Homo sapiens: one gene and its partners. The gene in region 1 interacts genetically with each later gene. Each region holds a gene or a part of one and is shown in the gene's direction. Other genes may lie near its edges. The genes, in order: XPO1, ADPRM, PSMD1, SPDL1, POLR2B, CACTIN and ASCC3.

The links.
Region 2: changes in XPO1 (region 1) and ADPRM together harm fitness more than expected from each alone (negative genetic interaction), as found in Homo sapiens cells (one large-scale study listed by BioGRID).
Region 3: changes in XPO1 (region 1) and PSMD1 together harm fitness more than expected from each alone (negative genetic interaction), as found in Homo sapiens cells (one large-scale study listed by BioGRID).
Region 4: changes in XPO1 (region 1) and SPDL1 together harm fitness less than expected from each alone (positive genetic interaction), as found in Homo sapiens cells (one large-scale study listed by BioGRID).
Region 5: changes in XPO1 (region 1) and POLR2B together harm fitness less than expected from each alone (positive genetic interaction), as found in Homo sapiens cells (one large-scale study listed by BioGRID).
Region 6: changes in XPO1 (region 1) and CACTIN together harm fitness less than expected from each alone (positive genetic interaction), as found in Homo sapiens cells (one large-scale study listed by BioGRID).
Region 7: changes in XPO1 (region 1) and ASCC3 together harm fitness less than expected from each alone (positive genetic interaction), as found in Homo sapiens cells (one large-scale study listed by BioGRID).

The regions. Positions count from the first base shown.
Region 1 is NC_000002.12:61,496,857-61,500,356, reverse strand, and holds part of XPO1 (exportin-1), read left to right. Parts: intron 1-462; coding exon 463-644; intron 645-1,443; coding exon 1,444-1,492; intron 1,493-1,564; coding exon 1,565-1,684; intron 1,685-3,349; coding exon 3,350-3,478; intron 3,479-3,500. UniProt on the Homo sapiens protein: Mediates the nuclear export of cellular proteins (cargos) bearing a leucine-rich nuclear export signal (NES) and of RNAs.
Region 2 is NC_000017.11:10,709,826-10,712,058, forward strand, and holds the end of ADPRM (manganese-dependent ADP-ribose/CDP-alcohol diphosphatase), read left to right. Parts: intron 1-1,008; coding exon 1,009-1,319; 3' UTR 1,320-1,733; downstream 1,734-2,233. UniProt on the Homo sapiens protein: Hydrolyzes ADP-ribose, IDP-ribose, CDP-glycerol, CDP-choline and CDP-ethanolamine, but not other non-reducing ADP-sugars or CDP-glucose.
Region 3 is NC_000002.12:231,164,867-231,168,366, forward strand, and holds part of PSMD1 (26S proteasome non-ATPase regulatory subunit 1), read left to right. Parts: intron 1-333; coding exon 334-420; intron 421-1,004; coding exon 1,005-1,151; intron 1,152-3,500. UniProt on the Homo sapiens protein: Component of the 26S proteasome, a multiprotein complex involved in the ATP-dependent degradation of ubiquitinated proteins.
Region 4 is NC_000005.10:169,593,773-169,597,272, forward strand, and holds part of SPDL1 (protein Spindly), read left to right. Parts: intron 1-372; coding exon 373-522; intron 523-621; coding exon 622-720; intron 721-798; coding exon 799-909; intron 910-2,788; coding exon 2,789-2,929; intron 2,930-3,500. UniProt on the Homo sapiens protein: Required for the localization of dynein and dynactin to the mitotic kintochore.
Region 5 is NC_000004.12:56,988,896-56,992,395, forward strand, and holds part of POLR2B (DNA-directed RNA polymerase II subunit RPB2), read left to right. Parts: intron 1-1,852; coding exon 1,853-2,003; intron 2,004-3,500. UniProt on the Homo sapiens protein: Catalytic core component of RNA polymerase II (Pol II), a DNA-dependent RNA polymerase which synthesizes mRNA precursors and many functional non-coding RNAs using the four ribonucleoside triphosphates as substrates.
Region 6 is NC_000019.10:3,610,145-3,613,467, reverse strand, and holds the end of CACTIN (splicing factor Cactin), read left to right. Parts: coding exon 1-4; exon of another isoform or gene 5-102; coding exon 103-410; exon of another isoform or gene 411-683; intron 684-1,054; coding exon 1,055-1,545; 3' UTR 1,546-2,823; downstream 2,824-3,323. UniProt on the Homo sapiens protein: Plays a role in pre-mRNA splicing by facilitating excision of a subset of introns. Required for the splicing of CDCA5/Sororin, a regulator of sister chromatid cohesion. Involved in the regulation of innate immune response.
Region 7 is NC_000006.12:100,846,830-100,850,329, reverse strand, and holds part of ASCC3 (activating signal cointegrator 1 complex subunit 3), read left to right. Parts: intron 1-1,622; coding exon 1,623-2,182; intron 2,183-3,500. UniProt on the Homo sapiens protein: ATPase involved both in DNA repair and rescue of stalled ribosomes. 3'-5' DNA helicase involved in repair of alkylated DNA: promotes DNA unwinding to generate single-stranded substrate needed for ALKBH3, enabling ALKBH3 to process alkylated N3-methylcytosine (3mC) within double-stranded regions.

The DNA.
Region 1 (3,500 bases):
CTCCTACCTCGGCCTCCCAAAGTGCTGGGATTACAGGCACGAGCTACCACGCCCAGCCTGGCCAGGCTGTTCTCAGACTCCTGGCCTCAAGTGATCTGCCCACCCTGGCTCCCCACAAAGTGCTGGGATTACAGGCATGAGCAACCGCGCAAGGCCTCCTAGAATAATTTCTACATATCTATCAGGCAGATACTAATACACAGACAGACCCATTAGACGGATTGGACCTTTCATTAGGATAATTGAAAAGGGTCCTGCGGTGATTAAGATAAAAGACTTTGTGTTTTGTTTTCTACCCAGTAGGGTGAAGAGGGTGGCACATTTCTTCCTTTAATAAAGGAGGAGAAAATGAAAAGTGATTTATCCTTACTCCTGCCTTTATCCATTACATAATTTCTTTGAAGTTTGTTTTATTTGCCTTTGAGAAATGAAGTGCGATTAACATTTCATGTCTTGTTTTAGATACTGAAACAAGAATGGCCCAAACATTGGCCAACTTTTATCAGTGATATTGTTGGAGCAAGTAGGACCAGCGAAAGTCTCTGTCAAAATAATATGGTGATTCTTAAACTCTTGAGTGAAGAAGTATTTGATTTCTCTAGTGGACAGATAACCCAAGTCAAATCTAAGCATTTAAAAGACAGGCAAGTAATAATTATGTTTTAGAATTTTAAAGTGATTTCTCAAACAATTTCAAGCAGTTTGGATGTAAATTGTAGATATTTTAAGGAACTATGATCAGTAATATGTTAAATTGCTTGTAGTGGTTTTCAACTGCAGATTAAGAAATAGTCCTAGACGGGGCCTAATAATTTACCTCTGAAGGTTGAAAAATGAATTGTTCAAGACACACTTCAGGAATTGTTTTGTATGGTAACTAGTTTAATAGGTTCTAAGCAAATGATTTGTGTCCAAACATACGTATTAGTTATTTTATTTTATTTTGAGACAAGTCTTGCTCTATTGCCTGGGGTGGAGTGCAGCAGCGCAATCTTGGCTCACCACAACCCCCACCTCCTGGATTGAGGTGATTTTCTTGCCTCAGTTTCCCAAATAGCTGTGACTGCAGGTGCATGCCACAGAGCCTGGCCTCAAATCAGTTATTGTCTCTGCTTCTTTTCAGTTCCCCAATTGTTAACAATAGTGTTCTTTTTAAAACAAAACAGAAAACTAGATTTGCCTCTAATAGTAAGCAACTGGTATAAACTATAGTTATACTTCCATTAAGTTTTAAACATTTGTTGTAGTCATTAGGAAATCTTTTTCCCCTTGGGTTGCCCAGGCTGGTCTCAAACAATCCTTCTGCCATGGCCTCCCAAAGTTCTGCGATTACAGGCATGAGCCACTGTACTGGGCTTTAATCATTTTTATTAGTATTATAGATAACTGATACTTATTTCTGTGTCTTCTAAATCTGATATTTTTGTGTGTTTTTTTTTTTAGCATGTGCAATGAATTCTCACAGATATTTCAACTGTGTCAGTTTGTAATGGTAAGTGTTTTTAATTTCATTTTTAAAAACAATAATAGGAAAGCAATTATTTACAAGTGTGTTTTGTTATAGGAAAATTCTCAAAATGCTCCACTTGTACATGCAACCTTGGAAACATTGCTCAGATTTCTGAACTGGATTCCCCTGGGATATATTTTTGAGACCAAATTAATCAGCACATTGATTTATAAGGTACAGTGAATACATTTCAGTTATTTGTCACCGGATAGCCACATATATTCTTTTCACATGTAAAGCTCTCATCTCTGCATTCTAAACCTTATTCAACCTTGTTTCTAACACGAGGACGCTGCTCAGGAGAAATTTCCCATATTCACACCTAGTAAATTATTTAAAGTGAGTTTCAAATCTGATTCTGCCACTTAGACCATGTAATTTTATGAATTCATTTTGAACAATGGATTTGATTATATTGCTTTTAGTTTGAGTAAGTTACAGTGAGGTAAGTCAAGTGCTATTTCTGAAAAATGAAAAGTTCATCTTTTAACTGATAATTTAAAATTGATACCATGTTATGGCTTAAGTTCTATAATGGTTTAGCCTGGGCAAGTTGGTGAAACCGGTCTCTACTAAAAATACAAAACAGCCAGGCGTGGTGGTGTATGCCTGTAGTCCCAGCTACTCGGGAGGCTGTGGCAGGAGAATCTCAAACTCAGGAGGCAGAAGGTGCAGTGAGCCAAGATCGTGCCACTGCACTCCAGCCTGGGCAACAGAGCGAGACCCTGTCTCAAAATAAGTAAAGTTCTACAGTGGTTTATCCAGAGATAATCACTGTTACCAGTTGGTTGTATTATATTTTCAGATGTTTTCTTGACTGATATAATGAATAAATTAAGTATCTAATTGGAACATTATAACTTGACCTCTTCAACTTCGTAGTTTAGTTTGGTAAGATAATATGGATTTATAGTATTTGAATGATCAGTTTATTGCTTAATTATGTAAAAACCTTTCTATTGTCAACAGTCCTACAGAGAACATTCTCAGACATAAGATATTATGCAATTGTCCAAACATTAATTTATTTAAATATTTTAATGTTTAATCACCAGATTATTAGGTATGTTTAATTTTAAGGTTTTAATGCCCCCTGATTTCCAACCCCAGACGATAACTGTTTATCTTCTCAACAATAGAATATATAAGCCAATTTTCCCATATTCTTATTACTCTTAGATACATTGACCATTTCCCAAAATTCTAAGCAATCACAAGTTTTAGGTCCTGTGTAATTACACAGAAAGTATAACATTCCTAAAAGTCATATCACAGATTCTAGGAAAGTTGTTAAGGAGCCTTGTTATTTTAGGACACATCAAAAGAAAGCAGTTTAGGCCGGGCGCTGTGGCTCACGCCTGTAATCCCAGCACTTTGGGAGGTCGAGGTGAGCGGATCACGAGGTCAGGAGATCGAGACCAGCCTGGCCCAACGTGGCAAAACCCTGTCTCTACTAAAAATACAAAAATTAGCCGGGCGTGGTGGCATGCATGTGTAGTCCCAGCTATTTGAGAGGCTGAGGCAGGAGAATCGCTTGAATCCAAGAGGTGAGGTTGCAGTGAGCCGAGATCAAGCCCCTGCATTTCAGCCTGGGCGAGCGAGACTCTGTCTCAAAAAAACAAAAAAAGTTTGCTCCTAAAGCATTTACTGTATACTAGGTAGGCAATAAAATTCCCTCTCAGTATATCTGCATGATAAAATATGTTCATTCACTTGGCCTGTTTTTGACATCTACCCCTATATTTAATTGTTAAAGCCTTTTTCCTTTTAATTGTGAATTTTAAGTAAAGTGTGTATCAGGCCAATTAATTTTATGGTTCCCTCCCCCCTTTTAAATAGTTCCTGAATGTTCCAATGTTTCGAAATGTCTCTCTGAAGTGCCTCACTGAGATTGCTGGTGTGAGTGTAAGCCAATATGAAGAACAATTTGTAACACTATTTACTCTGACAATGATGCAACTAAAGCAGGTAATATAATACTATCTTGAAA
Region 2 (2,233 bases), on another chromosome or scaffold:
GCAACGTGAGCTGTACTTCAGAGTGAGAACCGTGGCTTGATCATAGATGTGTTGCTGTCAGAAATTAGAACTTCTCCTAACTCTACTTCCACGTATCTCCTGTGGATGCCAGTATAAATCTTCCCTGTTTTAACTCAGTTTTTCATCTGAAAAGTGGGTATGGCTACCTTGATCTCATGAGTGTTTAAAGTCCCATAAATCAGTTCGGAGGCATTGTTTATGTCAATGACACATAATCCATGGCCCATGCCTAAACTGTTTGTTTATTTATTTATATTTACATTTTTATTTTTTGAGATGGAGTCTCGCTTTGTCACCCAGGCTGAAGTGTGGTGGTGTGATCTTGGCTCACTGCAACCTCCACCTCCCGGGTTCAAGCAGTTCTTCTGCCTCAGCCTCCCGAGTAGCTGGAACTACAGGCACATACCACCACGCCTGGCTAATTTTTGTATTTTTAGTAGAGACAGGGTTTCACCATGTTGTCCAGGCTGGTCTTGAACTCCTGACCTCAGGTGATCCGGCTGCCTTGGCCTCCCAAAGTGTTGGGATTACAGGCATGAGCCACCACACCCAGCCTGTTCTTTTATTTAGTGTTACATCATTCTGTGTATATAACATTCATATTTAAGGAAATCAATTGGATTGGATTCCAGCACAGCATCTGCCCAGTTTCAGGCTGCCTTTGCAGACTGCCCTGCATAGGACACCCTTGATCTTCCTCGGTGTTTCGGCAACTTGAGATGACGTAGGCCTCAGAGATTCAGGGTTTTGCCTCTACAGCAGCCTGTCGCGCCTCATGTGAACTGTCTTACCCTTCTTCTATGCTCCAGAGATGTGGCTGTAGATGGCCTAGTTTTCTTGTGTGTGAATTCTCTCTGGTCTCAGTTCATTTGCATAATGAGATAGCAATTTTTTTTTCTTTTTCTGAGTACTAGCTTTTAGCCATTTATTTTTATAGAAGAGATATTTCTTAATTGGCTCATAACTCTTCTTTTCTTTAACTAACAGGCCATCTTCCCATTTACCCGGACGCCTCTGACAATGTGTGCCTGGCCTGGAACTACAGAGATGCCCTGGCAGTCATTTGGTCTCATGAGTGTGTGGTGTGTTTCTTTGCTGGTCACACCCATGATGGTGGCTACTCTGAGGATCCTTTTGGTGTATACCACGTCAACCTAGAAGGAGTTATTGAAACAGCTCCAGACAGCCAAGCCTTTGGCACAGTTCATGTCTATCCTGACAAAATGATGTTGAAAGGGAGAGGCAGAGTTCCAGATAGAATTATGAATTACAAGAAAGAAAGAGCCTTCCATTGTTAGTCTAATTTATTTTAACTTGATAGAAAATGAGCTTTGTGTTTGTCCCTCCTAAACAAAAAAATAAAAATCCTCTGTCTCATTGTTTAGTATTCAGCTTGCATAACAAAATGTATTTATAGTTTCAGTGTGTGATGGTTGATAAAATACTCAGAAATGTTATTTTGGATCATGTATCCATTGTAAGTTAGAAACAAACCAGGGAGGAAACTGAGGCAGGGGTGTATAGTCCTCATAAGGGGCATATAGTCCTCATGAGGGATCTTATTTGGCCCTACCTGATTTTTTTTAACTTTTTACAAGGAGATTGTATTCACATGTGTTAACTATGTAACTTCAAGTTCAGCATATAAGCTCAGGTAAGCTTTTTCTATTCACCCTGCTGTGTAAATGAGCTTTGGACAATTTCTGCTCAGAACACCTATACTTGGATTTTTATAGGCTTGTATTCCCATTTTGTAAACAAAATTACCAATAGTTATTTCACGGGTAAGCGTGTGGCACTCCCATCCCTGTAAGAAGGGCCTCCAGAAAAGTCATGTAGTCCTCTTGGGATTCATAGGACCAAGTGGCAGTGCAGCCATGTGCCACCTGGCCTGGTCTGTTTGGGCCACCAGCCATTGCTGTGTGAAGCTACAGCAGGTAAATAAATTTACACTGACTCCCTTTATACACTAATGGGACATGTTTAACACCGTTTTCATATATGCTAAGGCTTATGTGTAGAAACATTAGATGGCAAATGGGGACTATTCAGGTGTGGAGAAAGTTTGATTCAGGGCCTAAACAACTATAAGAAATAAGCATGCCTGTTGAATACATGGGCACTATAGGGATATAAAGGAGTGTTAGCTTTCTATGGCTGCTGTAACAAATTCCCACAAACCTGGCGACTTAAACCAACATATACTTGTTCT
Region 3 (3,500 bases), about 170 Mb from region 1:
ATGAGAGCAAATTCATATCCAAGGTAGGCTACAGATCAAAAAAAAGGGAAGAGTTATATTGGACACAAGCCTCCAAGAACTAAAGATTCACTTGATGACAAGAGTAGTAAATTATTTCAGTAAATGTCCTGCTTAGTTTTCCCATTTATTCTTTGATTTATATATATTTATATATATATATATATATATATATATATATATATATATATATATATATATATATATGTAATACAGCTAGGAAATAGAATAGTGTTGTAGGACTGAGTTCTCTAGGGCTTGCATGTTTGTATGTCAGTAAGGGATTACAACAGTTTACCCTGCTCATTTCCCCAGGTTTCTACTGCTGTATTATCTATAACTGCCAAGGCTAAAAAGAAGGAAAAAGAAAAGGAAAAAAAGGAGGAGGAGAAAATGGAAGTGGTAGGTATAAATTGGTGGTCATATGGATTGAAGTATCTCTGTCTCTGTCATGGTCGAGATTCTTCCTTAGTTGAATATTATTCTACCTTGCTCTTGGCTTCCTTCAAACAATTATCCTGTTGCCAGCATGTAGAATCATCAAACTGTACTTGAAAGAGACTCGAAAATATATCCATTTGTGGGAAGAATAGAAGGGTACAAATCAGTAAAAAGTTCCTGGAGCAAATGACAACTAAAATAGGTTTTGAAGGGCAAAGTAGGTTTTTCACAGACAAGATGATGAGGTAGGAGAAAGAAAAACCCTTTCAAGCAAAGGGATTATCACTTGTTTAGGTAGACCTTTTTCTGATCTCTGCTGGTAGAAAAACCTTTTTAATCCTTTAAAACCAAGTCAAATACCATTCTCATTCCTAAGCAGAGTTACTTTTCCCTCCTCTGAGTCTGATAGCACTTTAGTTGTACTTCCATTACTACCGACCACTACCTCTTGTACCTTATAGCTGCTCAGTCAACTTCAGATGTTACTCAGTTCTGTGGAACAGAAATGAACTTCTGTTGAACTTTTTTTAAATTTTATTTTATAGGATGAGGCAGAGAAAAAGGAGGAAAAAGAGAAGAAAAAAGAACCTGAGCCAAACTTCCAGTTATTGGATAACCCAGCCCGAGTTATGCCTGCCCAGCTTAAGGTCCTAACCATGCCGGAGACCTGTAGATACCAGCCTTTCAAACCAGTAAGTTACCAGTGACTCTTAGCTGTATATACCAGTGGGATATTAATCCATAGGACAATAGAATATTGATAGAGAATGATAAATCTCCAAAGCATTGGAGCAAGCTCACTAGTTCTAAGAAATTATTTAACAAAAGAGAGAATGTTCTTTTCCATTTCATATAGATTTGGGAGAATTTTTCTTTTCCCTGTGTAACCCTACAAACTCCCGTCTTCTACCACAGACATACGACGTAGGAGTTCCTAATACAACAATTTGATTAGGAATATAGACTCTACAGCCAAGCATACAGGATTTGAATCTTGAGTATACTGCTCAGGCTAAGTGACCTTAGGCCAGGTACTAAATCTCTCTCTGCCTCAGTTTTCTTTATTATAAAACAGAGATTACCATCCCTGACTCAGAAATGAGGCACAGATTGAACAAGCACTGAGAACAAGACTTGGGACTGCTCAATAAGTATTGATTACTATGGTAATTACACCGTTGTCTTTTTTTTTTTTCTATTTCATTACACCATTGTCATAAATGCATTGCATTTTAGTTAGAAAAGGATCTTCATGGAATTTAATTTATTCCAAGACAGAGTGCTTCATGTTAAAAACAAATGCTTATCAGAAATATGAGTGTGATACTGCCTTTATCTTCCAGGTTCTTGTAGATAACTAGAGCGCCATCAGTAGACCCATCCAAGACATCCAGATGCTAGATCTGTCTAAAATGTCAGAGATTCGATTTCTAGATCCTTATCCTTATACAAGAGTAAACTTATTCTTATCAACCTGATGGTGGGTCAAAGGCAACTCCTATCTATAATTGTGAGTCGGGGTCTTAACCTGACTAATTTATCAGCTAGAAGAGATAAAGCCAAGGGATGCAAGATAGTGTATGTAGTGGTTTAGAGCTGGAATTTGGCATAACTGGGTTTTTATTTCTACTGTTAGCTGTGTGACTAAGACAAGTCATTTAATCTTTGTATTTCAGTTTCCTCATCTGTAAAATTGATATGGTAATGCTACCTACCTCCTGTTGATGTTGTGGAGATTAAATAGGTTGTTACATGTAAAGCACCTAAAACAATGGTAAATGCTAATCTGTAGCACTGCCTGATCTGTAGTAGTTGCTGTGTAGTGTTAAATGAATGGACAGAATCATCAATGGATACCTTTAATGCAGTCACTGTCTGATCTGCAACCTGGTTCATCTCGGTGGCGGTTTTACAGAGAACGTATTCTAACTGTGTCTGTAAACTTATCTTACCAGTAGCATGGGAATCCAGAACAGATGTATTAGGACACAACTAGAGCATACTCTAAGCACGTGAAATAACTAGTGTTTTTGATAATTATGAACTAAGACAGTGAGGCACGTGCTCAATGCCATGAGGCCATATGAGCACACTGTACACCACAGTAGAAAACTAAATGATTGCTAAGCCTTTGCTCAAATTAAGTCAGAGATAGCTATAACAGTTGGTCCACCTATGAATTAAAAGACTGCCTATGTCTGTGCAAGGAAGAAATGAGGAATCCTGTTGAAGGTATAGCCCTACACACACACACACACTCCTTCAAAGAGTGGGAGACTTTGTGTTCCAAAGTGTTTAAGGAAATTCCTGTCCAGTTGTTAGCTGACTACTAAGTTAAATGAGCATTGACTTTAGTGGACACACAAATCAGGGAATACAAACTTTATAGAATAGGAGAAAATATTTTCAAATCATTTATCTGATAAGACAGTTACATCTAGAACATACGAAAAGCTCCTCCAACTCAACAATAAAAAGACAACCTAATTTTAAAACAGGCAAATGATTTGAATAGACATTTCTCCAAAGAAGATGTACAGATGGGCAAATAAGCACATGAAAAGATGCTCAACATCATTACTCATTAGGAAATGCAAATCAAAACCATAACAGGTGCAGTGGTTCCCACTTACAGTCCCAGCTACATGGGAGGCCAAGGCAGGAGGATTGCTTGAGCCCAGTAGCTCGAGGCTGTAGTGCAATATGATTGTGCCTATGAACAGCCACTGGACACCAGCTTAGGCAACATAGCAAGATCCCATCTCTTAATTTAAAAAGAAACACAAAACCATAAGAAGATATCACATTCTACCCACCAGGATGGCTGTAATCAAAAAGACCGCACAGACAAGAATATGCAGAAATTGGAACCCTCATAGAGTAATAGTGGGAAAGTAAAGTTACAGCCACAGTGGAAAAAAAGAATTTGGCAGTTCCTCAAAAAGTTAAATGTAGTCTTATCATATGACCCGGCAATTCCATTCCATACCTAAGAGAAGAGAAAACTGTGCCCACACAAAAGCTTACACACTAACGCTCAT
Region 4 (3,500 bases), on another chromosome or scaffold:
ATGAAACGTCTGGAAGAATTTAGAGGCATATACTCTGATCCCAGATTTTATCGTAAGAGCCCAGTGTAAAACGTTGGCTCAGTGGAAGTTGAAATGCATGTGAACTTGGTTTTTTCATTGAAAGCTAAGGTTAATTAAAAATTAAAGCCTGAAATTGATAGAGGAAAAAGGGCAGTCTCTAAAGCCATTTGTTTCCTTGTTGAAAAATTTAACAGTAATAGTAATTTCTATTATTTTAGAATGTACCTGACAACTTTTGACTGGTTCTTTAGTTTTAATTTTGGATGTGAACCACAACTGAGATAAACTGAGCAGCTGCCAAATGAAAGATTATTCAAGAGAATTTCCTCCTTTTCAATTCCTGTTAAATAGACCACCCTCAAAGAAGAAGTGAATGAACTACAATACAGACAAGAACAGCTAGAACTTCTTATTACTAACCTAATGCGCCAGGTAGACCGGCTTAAAGAGGAAAAAGAGGAGCGAGAGAAAGAAGCAGTTTCTTACTATAATGCCCTAGAGGTACTATGATTACAGTAACATCATGTTTTCCAATTTATCATAACTTATTTTCTTGCTAATGTAATCTCTGTTGCCTAAATTGTTTTCTTTTGAATTTAGAAAGCTCGTGTAGCAAATCAAGATCTTCAGGTACAGTTGGACCAGGCACTCCAGCAAGCCTTGGATCCCAATAGTAAAGGCAACTCTTTGTTTGCAGAGGTACTTATAAGTATCCTAACTACTAAATTGGTATTTTCATTTACTACCAGAACAATTAAGCATGTTAATATTTTGTAGGTGGAAGATCGAAGGGCAGCAATGGAACGTCAGCTCATCAGTATGAAAGTCAAGTATCAGTCACTAAAGAAGCAAAATGTATTTAACAGAGAACAGATGCAGAGAATGAAGGTATAGAACTTTCACTATCAAAGGTTTATTAAACAAATTTTGTGTCAGCATTACATGTATGAATACATCAAAGAAACTAGCTTTTTCTGCAAGGAGTGTACTTATATAGTTGTTTCTAGAACTGCATGATTTCAAAAAATCAATTTTGAAATTAAAAGATTCATTTATAGTTTAAAAATCTTGGAATAAATATTTAGTAATAGTATATTTAGCAATGATTATTGTTTGTTTTAATGGTTACTCACTAGCTTTGACTTAAATCTTTCTTTGTGGAGTAGAAGAAAGAAAAGTATTTATTTCTTATTCTTGGCCTGATGTCTTTCCAAGCATAGCCCTAGGGTTCCTACTTCAGCTGAAACTCGCTGCCTCACCATTCCTCTGCTCTTTCACCAAGGCTTATTATGGAGTGAAATTTGGATTATTCAGGGTTCCCTTTCCTTGTAGCTCCTCAAGTCAAGCACATAGACCCTTTTAATTTTACGGGTTTTGTTGGTTGTCATTCTAGCCAAATAAGAGGTAGCAGAAAAACATGTGGGAATTAGAAAGATTTCAGTATTGTAACAGTCCTTAGAATCCTGATCCCTCATCCATTGTGCCTCACTCTACTGAGGTAGTAATTGGAATCTGGAAAGGCTTCCTTCCTTTTATTCAGAATCATGGGCTTTGCCAAAGAAATGGGAAAGGTTAATGATTAAATTTGGGAGTTAGGTGGATTTGGGTTTGAATCATAGTTTTGTCACTTGCTAGCTCTGTGACCTTGGACAAGTATTTTAACTTTGAAAGCAACAGTACCTCATCTATTAAGTGAAGATGATAGAACCCCCTCTTAGAATTGTCCTACAGTTAAATGAAAGTGTAGTAAAATACTTAACCTGCTACTTGGCAAATGAGTGTTTAATGAACAACAGCTGTGAATTTTATTTCTAAGGGTTTCCAGACTGTGCTGCCTCATTTCCTGAGACTCTCCCCTGTCTGGGAAGTATTTCTTTATAAATTTTCTCACGTTTACTTTAGTTTTCTTACAGTATTTGTTGGGGTTACTTTTAATCTACCAATGTTGCATATGTCCCAAACTATCTTTAGAGACTAGAAGCATTCTGAGTCTTAGGCTAAGTGGGCCTAGCCTCCAATCTGAAACAGGAACAAAAAGGATATCCTTTAAAATGTTAAAAGTCATCTGCAACCTCATATCATTGATTGTTTTACTCAAAACTATATTTAAACTAATAGGCACTCTTTTCAACTCCAGAAATTTCCAAAGGCAGAAAGAAATGCTAGATTTAGAGTCTACTTAATTTCCCTCTGGTAGCTTCACAACTCCAGATTTGGGGTGGGGGAGGTATAATGAGGTAAGTTGAGTGCTGCTCTAAAAAAATTAAAACATGGTATATTGAAGATTACCCCAGTATACTAAGATAGCCTTTTATCTTTGCTTTTAACGTCATTTGTGAATCTAACATTTGTGGCTGTCAGTAGCTTAGTTTTCCTCACTTAATTAAAGTTAATTAAAAATTTTGAGAAACCCATCAGAACCTTAATAAGAGCGAGTGCTTATGATAAGCAGTCTGCAGCGTTTGGCCAGGCTTACTTACCAGTTCAGTGGTGTGCTTTCAGACCACAGCCATGCAAGTCAGTTTTATGTTTCACAAAAGTACAAATAATTACATTACAGACTTCAGTTATCATTCATAAGTAGTCAAAATAAGTATTCAAATGTTATGTCTACAAAAAAATTTATTATTAGATTAGAAATAGCTAATTTAGTTTCCAAAATGAGTTCAAAGTAATATAGTACAAATTATGAATTGTATCAAAAAAGTAGTTATCAGAATCTTTCTCTCACTTAATTTTATTAGAGGGGGTAATTTTATTTTTCTAGTTACAAATTGCCACGTTGCTACAGATGAAAGGGTCTCAAACTGAATTTGAGCAGCAGGAACGGTTGCTTGCCATGTTGGAGCAGAAGAATGGTGAAATAAAACATCTTTTAGGTGAAATTAGAAATCTGGAGAAATTTAAGGTATGTATAACAGTTAAAAAAACACACATCCAAATTTTGATTTGAATATCTTAAAATTTGGTTTGTTTTTTAAGTTTAAATTATTAATAAATATCTTGTGGGAGATACTTTGAGACTAAGTAAATGGCTGTTTCTCCTTATACTTAAACATCCATTGGTGATTCTTGCCTGAAACATAATTCTGTGATGATTGCTAAATGGGTAATTCCATCACTTCTTCTATATTTATTAGTTGGAATTTTAGTAAAGGGACAGAAAAGAAAAATCTTTTTCCTCACTTACTCATTCATTTATATCAGTATAGCCTCATGGATTCTTATTTTATCCTATGAGTTATAATCCATTGCTTGCTTTATTTACTCTGATACTCAAATTGTCCCAGATTTGATAGTCGAAGTGCTCTTACTTGAATATTTCCTTACTCTATGGCACAACAAGGGTTTCCTAGCTCACCTGGCCCACTTCTGGGATTAGCATTTCTTCAAGGAACATTGGTTTATTTTAGTTGAGAATGGTATTTGTGTAAGCATTTGTGTGTGTGTGTGTGTGTGTGTGTGTGTGTGTGTAAGAA
Region 5 (3,500 bases), on another chromosome or scaffold:
TGTGGTAGATTGCTCAAGGATAAAATACTCTATTGTGAACTGTCATAGCATTTATCATTTGTTACAAAATAAATTATTTGATTTTTAAGTTTAAATTGACTGTAGATACTTTGGCTATTGAGAAATGAATTTTGATTTTTTTTTACTTTTTAATATCAAGTGATCTTGTGAATGTGATATTAGTTAATATCACAAGTAACTTCATAAGATGACTTCAGGTAAAATAAACAGAGTAGAGATCATAAATATGAAATATTTATATAGTTTAGGTGTTTAAGCACCATTCTAATGATTTTGGGTAAAGTAGCTATAGTTCAGCTTCCTGGGGTAATGAAACTTATCTATAGTTTAGAAGCTATTCATCTTAAATTGCCTATAAAAAACCATGGCTATGTATATTACAGGCAATGCCATGTTTTTCTTACAATATCAATGGCTAATCCACATGGTTGTGAGAAATTTCTTTCCCATTATGTGACAGTCTCTACTGAAATAAATTGCCCCAACTGTTATTTAGGTCATACCTTACACATGTGTGATTGTCTGCTGTGTTTTCTACCATAGGACCTAACTTCTAATTTTGGTGGCCATACTTGACTGGATCAGGGTGGGGCCAATTTGTTGGCCTGTCACTGATGTGCGAGGTGACCTGATGAAGCCAAAATGGGAGGCTGATGATTAGTTGGACTCTGCATATTGTCTTAGAAAATTGATGTGAAGATGGGGGAGTCAGTAGTTGGGGAGTAGAAGCTAAGAAGGTCTCACAGATATAAGATGACAGAGGTCACAAGATATAGGAGTGGAGACGTGGAGGTGTGGTGGGGCACTTCCTACTGCTGAAGGGTGATGGGATAATCTTGAGGGTTGTGCTACATCCTCCAGCCTCTGTGATGCCCAGCTTTGCAGCTGTCCCTGGATGGTAATAGGGAGTGATCTGTTGAGATCCTCTTGCACGTGTATCTACTTGTCTCTGTATGTCTTTCCCCACCCCTCACCTGAAAAGTATCTGTTCCTTATAAATATGATGTCTGCTTTTTAGATTGCAGCTCTCTCAGCCATGCTGCATTTTTATCACCAGTCTTTTGCTGAGTATTTTTATGTAAAGACTTATTCTTCTTATCCTACCTTTAAGAATTCAAAATAGAACTAATGATCTATAACCTAAAGTTGGCATTCTCATGCATTATTTTAGTCATTAATATCACTACCCTCCGTCCTATTCAAATGAAAGTTCTTATTGTTATCTTTGACTTTTCTTTAGTTTTCTCTCCTGACATATTTGTCAAGAAGTACTTCAAAGAGGTGGAATAAAATTTGTCCATAAAGGGCATAAAGTTTTTTTTTTTCTTTGAGATAGGGTTTCGCTGTCTCCTAGGCTGGAGTGCAATGATGCAATCATGACTCAATGCAGCCTCAAACTCCTGGGCTCAAGTGATCCCCCTACCTCATCCTCTTGAATATGTGGGACTATAGGCACATGCCACCATGCCTGGCTAATTTTTTTCTTATTTGTTGAAATGAGGTCTCATTGCGTTGCCCAGGCTGAACTCAAGCAATCCTCCTGCCTTGGCCTCCCAGGAGCTGGGATCCTTATAGTTCTTATATTGTGCTTTAAGTATTTTACCCCCAAATATAAGCTGCTTTTCCCCAAATAATAAGTTCTACAAAGAAAATATGCCCGGTTTCATCCTTTTTAAGATACCTCATAGTGTCTTGTTTAGTGGTTGACATATAATGGTTGGTATTTTATGACTGTTTCTTGAATAATGAAAATGGGGAAATAATGAAAATGGGGAATTATGCTAGAAATTATCACTGAGTTGCAACTGACTGAACTCAAATATTTTCCCAGTTCCTATTTTGACGAGAAAGGCTTGGTTAGACAACAGCTGGATTCTTTTGATGAGTTTATTCAGATGTCTGTTCAAAGAATTGTGGAAGACGCTCCTCCTATAGACCTACAGGCTGAAGCTCAGCATGCTAGTGGAGAAGTTGAAGAACCGGTAAGATAGTTCTAATAGTTACACAGGTACAAGAAGCGTATTGGTTTGAAATTTTAGCCCTTCTCTTACCTGGCTTAAAGGTTAAAAAAAGTCAGTTGGAGCTTTTAGCAAAGTACTTACAGCACCGTCAATCACTTTCTGATTTATTTTCTCTAATGAAGAGGTGTGTTTTTTTGCAAGTTATCCCATCCTTATTCACATAGTAGGTATTGAATAGCTGGGAAGAGAGGACTCTGAAATATGAACAAATAAGAGAAGTGAGCCAGAGATGGTCACATTGCTTTAGATAGATAACCCCGCTTTTTTCTCTCACAGTGTAAAAATAATAAAAAATGTTTGAAGGAATTTTCATCTGATTTTATATATTGCATGAAGTACATTATTATAACCATATGAGATAAGAAAGGAAAATCACCCAAACATAGCAGCTATCTTTACTAAGTTTCTTGTAGCTTTTGCTCACATATATGCAGGTTTTTTAGCATTGTTAAAATCATACTAAGGGTATAATTTTATAATTTGGTTTTACATGAGTGATTATAAGAAGGATGTAGTCCAAAATAATGACTGTCCCAGTTTTAGAGAAGTTGAGAGGCAGCTGTTGGAACATATTGGACTTTGAGAGACAGGGAAAACTGAGAAACAAAGTGAGGTAGGGAAAGCCCCCAAAATAGAGCTAGACACAGGGAGAGTTCATTGTTTCTAGCCTGATCAGTTTCTCTTCTGTGTAGCTTATCTCCTAAGTGCTGGTCTGTTATTTCCATTTTAGTTGGACATGCTGTACAGAATTTTGCTGTTAAGAATGAAAGTGATTGGCTCTTCTAGGGCTGTGCTGGAAAGGGGGACATTAAGTTTCTTTTTTATTCTTGGGTCATTTTTTTCTTTTTTACAGGGTCTATAGGTGCCCACCACCATGCTTGGCTAATTTTTTTGTATTTTTAGTAGAGATGGTGTTTCACATGTTGGCCAGGCCGATCTCCAACTCCTGACCTCAAGTGATCCACCTGCTTCAGCCTCCCAGAGTGCTGAGATTATAGGCATGAGCCACTGCACCTGGCTTGTTGGGTCATTTTTTCTTCATGGTCTTTGTATAACAAGCCAGATAACAATATAACATAGCAAATTGAACGTGCCAGTAACAGAAGTACTAAAAGAGGAGTAGATCTCTAACACCTAGTTATCAGAGCTTAGTAGAAAAGATGGAAGAGACTTAAATTTACTATGAAGAACTCTCTTAGAAGAGAAAAGGTGCTTAGTCATTTCAGCAAGGAAATATTTGGTGTGGCCGGTGCGATGGCTCATGCCTATAATTTTAGCACTTTGGGAGGCCGAGGCGGGCAGATCACCTGAGCTCAAGAGTTTGAGACCAGCCTGGCCAATATGGTGAAACCCCGTCTCTACTAGTAAAGTACAAAAATTAGCCGGGTGTGGTGCCAGGCACCTGTAGTCCCAGCTACTAGGGAGGCTGAGACAGGAGAATTGCTTGAACGTGGGAGA
Region 6 (3,323 bases), on another chromosome or scaffold:
GCAGGTAGGCCCGGCCGGCACCCCGGGGACGCCGATGCAGACGCGGAGCAGGATGGAGGGGCCGTGGGCAGCCTCCGCGCCTCCAACGCTCTCTCCTCCCAGCCTGGAGCCTGAGGACGCGGCGCCCACCCCGCCCGGGCCCTCCTCGGAGGGCGGCCCCGCGGAGGCCGAGGTGGACGGCGCGACCCCGACAGAGGGCGACGGCGACGGGGACGGTGAGGGCGAGGGCGAGGGCGAGGCGGTGCTCATGGAGGAGGACCTGATCCAGCAGAGCCTGGACGACTACGACGCCGGCAGGTACAGCCCGCGGCTGCTCACGGCGCACGAGCTGCCACTGGACGCGCACGTGCTGGAACCGGATGAGGACCTGCAGCGCCTGCAGCTCTCGCGCCAGCAGCTCCAGGTCACGGGTAAGGGCGGGGCTGGAGGCCAGGGGGTGGGGCCAGTGGGGCGAGCTGGGGGCGGGGCTTCTCCAGCCTCATTTCCCGGCCGAAGCCGCTGGCGTCAGTGGGGAGCTGCTTGCTGCTTCTCCCCCGGGTCTCTGAGCGTGCATTCCGTCACCTGCACGCGCACTGGGGCGTTCCTTCATTCATCCTGGGCTTGCTGGCCCACTGGCCTTGGGGCCACAGGTGGTGGAAGCTTTTACCGGCCGCTGTCCGAGCACTCCCTGGGCAGCCTCCGTCCTAAGACAGAGGAGAAAATACTGGCTTCAGAAAACCCCTGGGCCAGGACCCCCTCGGGGGTCATGCGTGGGGCTGGATCCCGCAGCCAGGCCCTAACCACCAGGTTCTCCTGTCGCTCGGCGGGGAAGCGCGCTGCGCTTGGTCCCCACCCAGGAGGACGATAGACATGAAGACCAAGGTCCGGGGCTCGGGGCGGATGGTGTGGGTCTCCGGGTCGCCCAGGCCCTGTCCCCTCCCCATGTGCCTTAGCTCGCCCCAGCCTGTTTTCCTTTTGCGGGAGGCACCAGCGGCCGCCCCTGCCAGAGAGGCTAGGAGGGAGGCCAGGACCCAGGGGGAGGCCGAGGCCCGGGTGAACGCCGTCCCGCCCGCAGGAGACGCCAGCGAGAGCGCCGAGGACATCTTCTTCCGGCGGGCCAAGGAGGGCATGGGCCAGGACGAGGCGCAGTTCAGCGTGGAGATGCCACTCACCGGCAAGGCCTACCTGTGGGCCGACAAGTACCGGCCACGCAAGCCGCGCTTCTTCAACCGCGTGCACACGGGCTTCGAGTGGAACAAGTACAACCAGACGCACTACGACTTTGACAACCCACCGCCCAAGATCGTGCAGGGATACAAGTTCAACATCTTCTACCCCGACCTCATCGACAAGCGCTCCACGCCCGAGTACTTCCTGGAGGCCTGCGCCGACAACAAGGATTTCGCCATCCTGCGCTTCCACGCGGGGCCGCCCTACGAGGACATCGCTTTCAAGATCGTCAACCGCGAGTGGGAATACTCGCACCGCCACGGCTTCCGCTGCCAGTTTGCCAACGGCATCTTCCAGCTGTGGTTTCACTTCAAGCGCTACCGCTATCGGCGGTGACGGCCCTGGGGAACGGCAGGCAGGTGTCCTCGGGGGCACAGTAAAGGGGCTTCGGTGAAGCTGGTGGTCACTCCGGGGCCGCTGTCTGGGCTGCAGGGCCGCGGGTTCACGTCCCACCTCAGGCCGCATCTTTCTTTCGCCAGGCCTCAGTTTCCTCCTATATAAAAGGGGGGTCACCATTGAGCCTGCCATGGTGAGCTGAGGAGACACTGGGACAGGCTGGCCTAGGGTCCTGATGCAACGGAGGGGGCGCTAGGGGCATCTTTCGAGCACGAGGGTGGCCAGCAGCCGCCAGCTGACCTCACCGTCCAGGCGGACACTCTCCACCGCCCCTCAGCCAGGCTGGGTGGGGCCCACAGGGCCTGCCCCAAGTGGCGGCCACACAGGGTGTTGTGGAGATGGGCCAGAGGGGCCTGGGCTTGGCGGTGCCAGGCTCGTGAGAAGCAGGAAACTCAAGGCCAGCCCTGCCACATCACGGGGCACCCACTGGGCGTGAGGCAGAGCCCGCGGCTGTGGGGCAGCTCCAGCCCTGCCCACAGGCCACCCTCGCCCGCACAGGCAGCACTGAGGCCGGGACCCTGCTGGCGCCCGATCCGCCACTGCAGAAGAGACCCTCTGTGGACACCCACACTCTGCAGGGACTGGCCCCCAACTCACCCCGTGCTGGCTGGTGGGGTCCATTTCCCCGCAGCGGGTATGGAGGATGCGTCGAGGTCCCTGTCTCTGTCAAGGTCGTGGGAACCAAAAGTCACTGAGCCGTCCTCCCCCCACCTCTGAGCACAGGGCCTGGAGGGCAGGGGCTCCCCGAAGGCTGGGGGTTGGAGAAGGGTGAGGGGCTTCCCCCAGGGATCCCCCCACCTGGCCTGCTCACGGGGCCTTGGAGCATGAGACCAGTGACCCCGAGTTTTGCCCATATCAGGACAGTGGCTCCTTCTCACTCCCCTTTCTCAGGCCAGGAGGGCCGAGGGCCACACGGGTGCCACAGCCCAGGTCGGAGTGGCCCAGCCGGCAGGCTTGTTCTTCAGCATCCGACGGGAACATCTCCAACAGAAGCAAAACGGAAAGTGCCTCCCGGACCCCCAGAGGGCCACCCAACCTCACCAGTCACCAGCCCCAGACCACCCACAGCCCCTCCCAGACACCCCGCCTCATCTGGAAATAGTTCCGTTTGTTTCTCTAAAAAGACTTGTAGGTGGGAAAAAAAATCTTTTGTTCTCATGGAATTGGCCTATTGGCAAGATCGCATGTTTTTTTAATAAACGTTGTATTTTAGAATAATCTTAGGTTTGCAGAAATGCAGAGAGTGTAACGTGTCCGACGCCCCACACCCGCTGCCCTAGTTGCTGCTGGCATTTGTGACACAGCGCATTTGTCCCAAGGGAAGAGCCTGGGAAACAACACGGCACCCAACTGGGGCCCGGTGGTCCCTTGGGAGCTGTGTTAGTGCCCGGATCTGTCTTTGCCCCCCACCCCTCTGCCTTGCCTCCCACAGTGGGGGTGACAGTCCATTTCCCAGACGACAGGAGGGAGGGTACAAGGGTGGACACAGCTGCTGGCCTGGGCCCAGGCTCTCATGGGGGCAGCGCTTGGCCATGCCTGGGGGCATTCGTGGTGGTCCCACCTTGGGGCTGCTCCTGGCGTGGAGTGAGTGGAGGCCAGGGATGCTGCCCAATGTGCTTCAGTGCCCAGGATGAGCCTCCCCAAATGTCCTCACTGCAGTAGGCAGAGGTGCAAGGCAGATCCTGCACTCCCCTGGGGCACTGGTCACCTCCCAGCCC
Region 7 (3,500 bases), on another chromosome or scaffold:
TCAGTATGATATAGAAATAGGCATAGAGTGGGGTAGAACGTGGTTTTTGGTGAAGAAATTCTTTTTGGCTGGAGCAGGAAATATATAATAGCCAATAAGACTGGAAAATAAAATGCTGGGGTCAGCTTCTGGCAGTGTAGGAGCTTGGATCAAGCTATAGTAAGCTGTGGAAGATTTGTGAATAATGATACTGGAGTCATGTTTCCTTCTTTTTTTTTTTTTTTTTTTTTTGATAGAGTCTCAATTCTGTCACCCAGGCTGGAGTACAGCGATGCTATCTCTGCTCACTGCAACCTCCGCCTCCTAGGTTCAAGCGGTCCTCCTGCCTCAGCCTCTCGAGTAGCTGGGATTACAGGTGTGTGGCACCACACCCAGCTAATTTTTGTATTTTTAGTAAAGACGGGATTTCACCATGTTGGCCAGGCTGTTCTCGAACTGCTGACCTCAGGTGATCCACCCACCTCGGCCTCCCAAAGTGCTGGGATTACAGGCGGGAGCAACTGCAGAGTCATGTTTTTTAGAAAGATACCAGTATTCATTACATTATTAACTTTAACAGTATTTAGGTAAGTCACATAGCTTTTGGGGCCTTTTGAAGATTTAAATTCTTCTTTTCTTCTCTAAGAATATTCTTTGAAACCCATGTCAGAAATACAGATTCTTTTTTTTATTTGAGAAAATTGGATATGAGAAAATGCCTTAAATAAATTAGAGGCTGATTCTTCTTATATTTACTTCTAGCCTCTTTTAAACAGGAGCTTTCTTTTTTATTTTATAATATGACTAACTTTATCTTCAGCTTAATAAATATCCTTGATGGTATTAAATGTTTTTGAATGAGAACTATAGAAGTATTTCTTGCCATCTCAGGTTTATGGTACAAATTGGAAAGAAAATTATAGATATTTGAGGTTTCCTTGAAGCTCCAAAAGTCTATAATTCAGATTGTTTTCTGTACCTTACTTTGGTTTATTTAACTAGCTCATCAAATCAATCTTTAAAATTAGTTTTAAAGTGAGTTTTAGCTAGTGTCTCAAGTTGTTTTTAGAAAGAAGCTGTAAGGATTGTTACTAGGTAGTTTCTGCACTTAGATACATAATAATTACTGATAATGATTTATTTACCTAAAATAGTTCTTTGGGAAATAAATAGTTCTTCAGGAATGGGTTGGTTCCTGCTCCTTAAATTGGCTATCTGTCTTTATTGTTATGTTTTTGTTGTTTTTTTTACAAGGTCTCACACTGTTGCCCAGGCTGAGTACAGTGACACAATCATGGCTCGCTGCAGCCCCAACCTTCCAGGCTCAAGCAATCCTTCCACCTCAGCCTCCTGAGTAGCTGGGACTACAGGTGCACACCACCATACCTGGCTAATTTTTAAAAATTTTTGTAGAGATGGTTCTCACCATATTGCCCAGGCTGGTCTTGAACTCCTAGACTCAAGTGATCTTCCTGCCTTGACCTTCCAGAGTGTGGGGATTATATGGAGCCATTACACCTGGTCTATTGCTATGATTTGACTGTTAGATTTACTCAGGAGAATATTTGTGGTAATTTTTTGGAAGATCGTAACTTGAACCATGATTCAATTGAGCTAATACTGTTTCTTTTGTCTTTGAATAGTTGGAACTGATAATGGGAGAGAAGCAATTGAAAGTGGGGCTGCATTTCTCTTCATGACATTTCACTTGAAGGACTCTGTTGGTCACAAGGAAACAAAGGCTATCAAACAGATGTTTGGCCCCTTTCCTTCATCATCTGCCACTGCAGCTTGTAATGCTACTAATCGAATTATTTCTCATTTTAGTCAAGATGATCTTACTGCTCTTGTGCAGATGACAGAAAAAGAACATGGCGATAGGGTTTTTTTTGGTAAAAATTTAGCATTTTCATTTGACATGCATGATTTGGACCACTTTGACGAACTGCCAATAAATGGTGAAACTCAGAAAACTATAAGCCTAGATTATAAGAAGTTTCTGAATGAACATCTCCAGGAGGCTTGCACCCCAGAACTCAAGCCTGTGGAAAAAACAAATGGCTCCTTTTTGTGGTGTGAAGTTGAAAAGTACCTAAATTCAACTTTGAAGGAAATGACTGAAGTGCCAAGAGTAGAAGATCTTTGCTGTACTTTATATGATATGCTTGCTTCTATTAAAAGTGGTGATGAACTTCAGGATGAGGTATAGTTGAAATGATTTATTTTTTTATATTAATGTGAACTATCCTAATGAAATAGTGTTTTTTAAACATGGGTGGTTAGCAAAGAAAGTTCTTTAATGTTCTGTATAGTAGTTGAATCTATAGCCAAATGGTTTCACATAGCAGGCCTGTATATACGTTCCTAATGGATAGTTACAGGAGGTCTGAAAGTGTAATGAGTGTAGCAGAGGAGTAAGCAGACAATAGTTGGGTGTCCACATGCTCTGGTTACTGGGACAGTGCTGGTTTGATGTCAACTTAATTTTAATACTGGACAAATTGAATGAGTAATATATTTCATGAAAGATTAAGAGGGATGGCCTACTGTTGTAGAAAGGACAGGCTTTGAAATCAGTTTGTTCTTCCCTTTCCACTTACTGGTTGTGACACTTTAGGTAACTTAATCTCTCAGAAGCTCAGTTTTCTTGTTGGGCTATCTCAAGGAGACACCAATATCAAGATAGATAATTGTTATAAGGATTGAATGTGATATATGCAAAATGGTAAGTAACATGTTAAATAATCATTATGTGGTAGCTGTGATTATTTTTGTCGTTATTATTGGAATTAAGAATTTTTAAATCACATTGAGTATTGGAAATACAGAAAAAATACTAGCTGTATTTTTCAGAGAAAAATTAATTTAGAGAATTAGCTAAGTAGGTATTGGAGGACTTAACCCATAGGTGTTATGCCAACTAACATTAGTTTGGAAGTAAGATATTATATCATTAATTCTGTGATCAGTCTTTTTACTGTGAATGTTTTACACTTGGTTTAATTTTTATCAGATCTGTTCTCACTATTAAATTTTCTCTAACATTCTGAACATAATATTGTTTTAAAAATTGTGATTTACGAAGAAAATTTTACTAATATTTGCTCATCATAATTGAATACATAGTAGTTATCCAATTATGATTATAATAAACTGAAATTTATAAATATCTAATTAATGGATATTTTATTTTCTTAGTAAGCCATAAAACCATTACTTTCACTTCTGAATATCTATAGTAAGTTTGTATTTCTTAGTCTTTCACCACAATTTTAAAGTATGTAACTGAATCTGATTGTTGGAAGGGGAGTATTTGTGCTAGATTTTTTTCATAATAGCTTCATTTGTCATATATTTATTGTATGCTTATTGTATTGCTAGGTACAGTGCTATTTACTGAACATAAAAGGATGAATAAGATAGCAAACTTGTTCTCAGAATTAATTGTCTAGCAGGAGGAGACATGTCAACAAGTAACTGTACTGAAATATCATAGGTATTATAATACTACATGCAAAGAA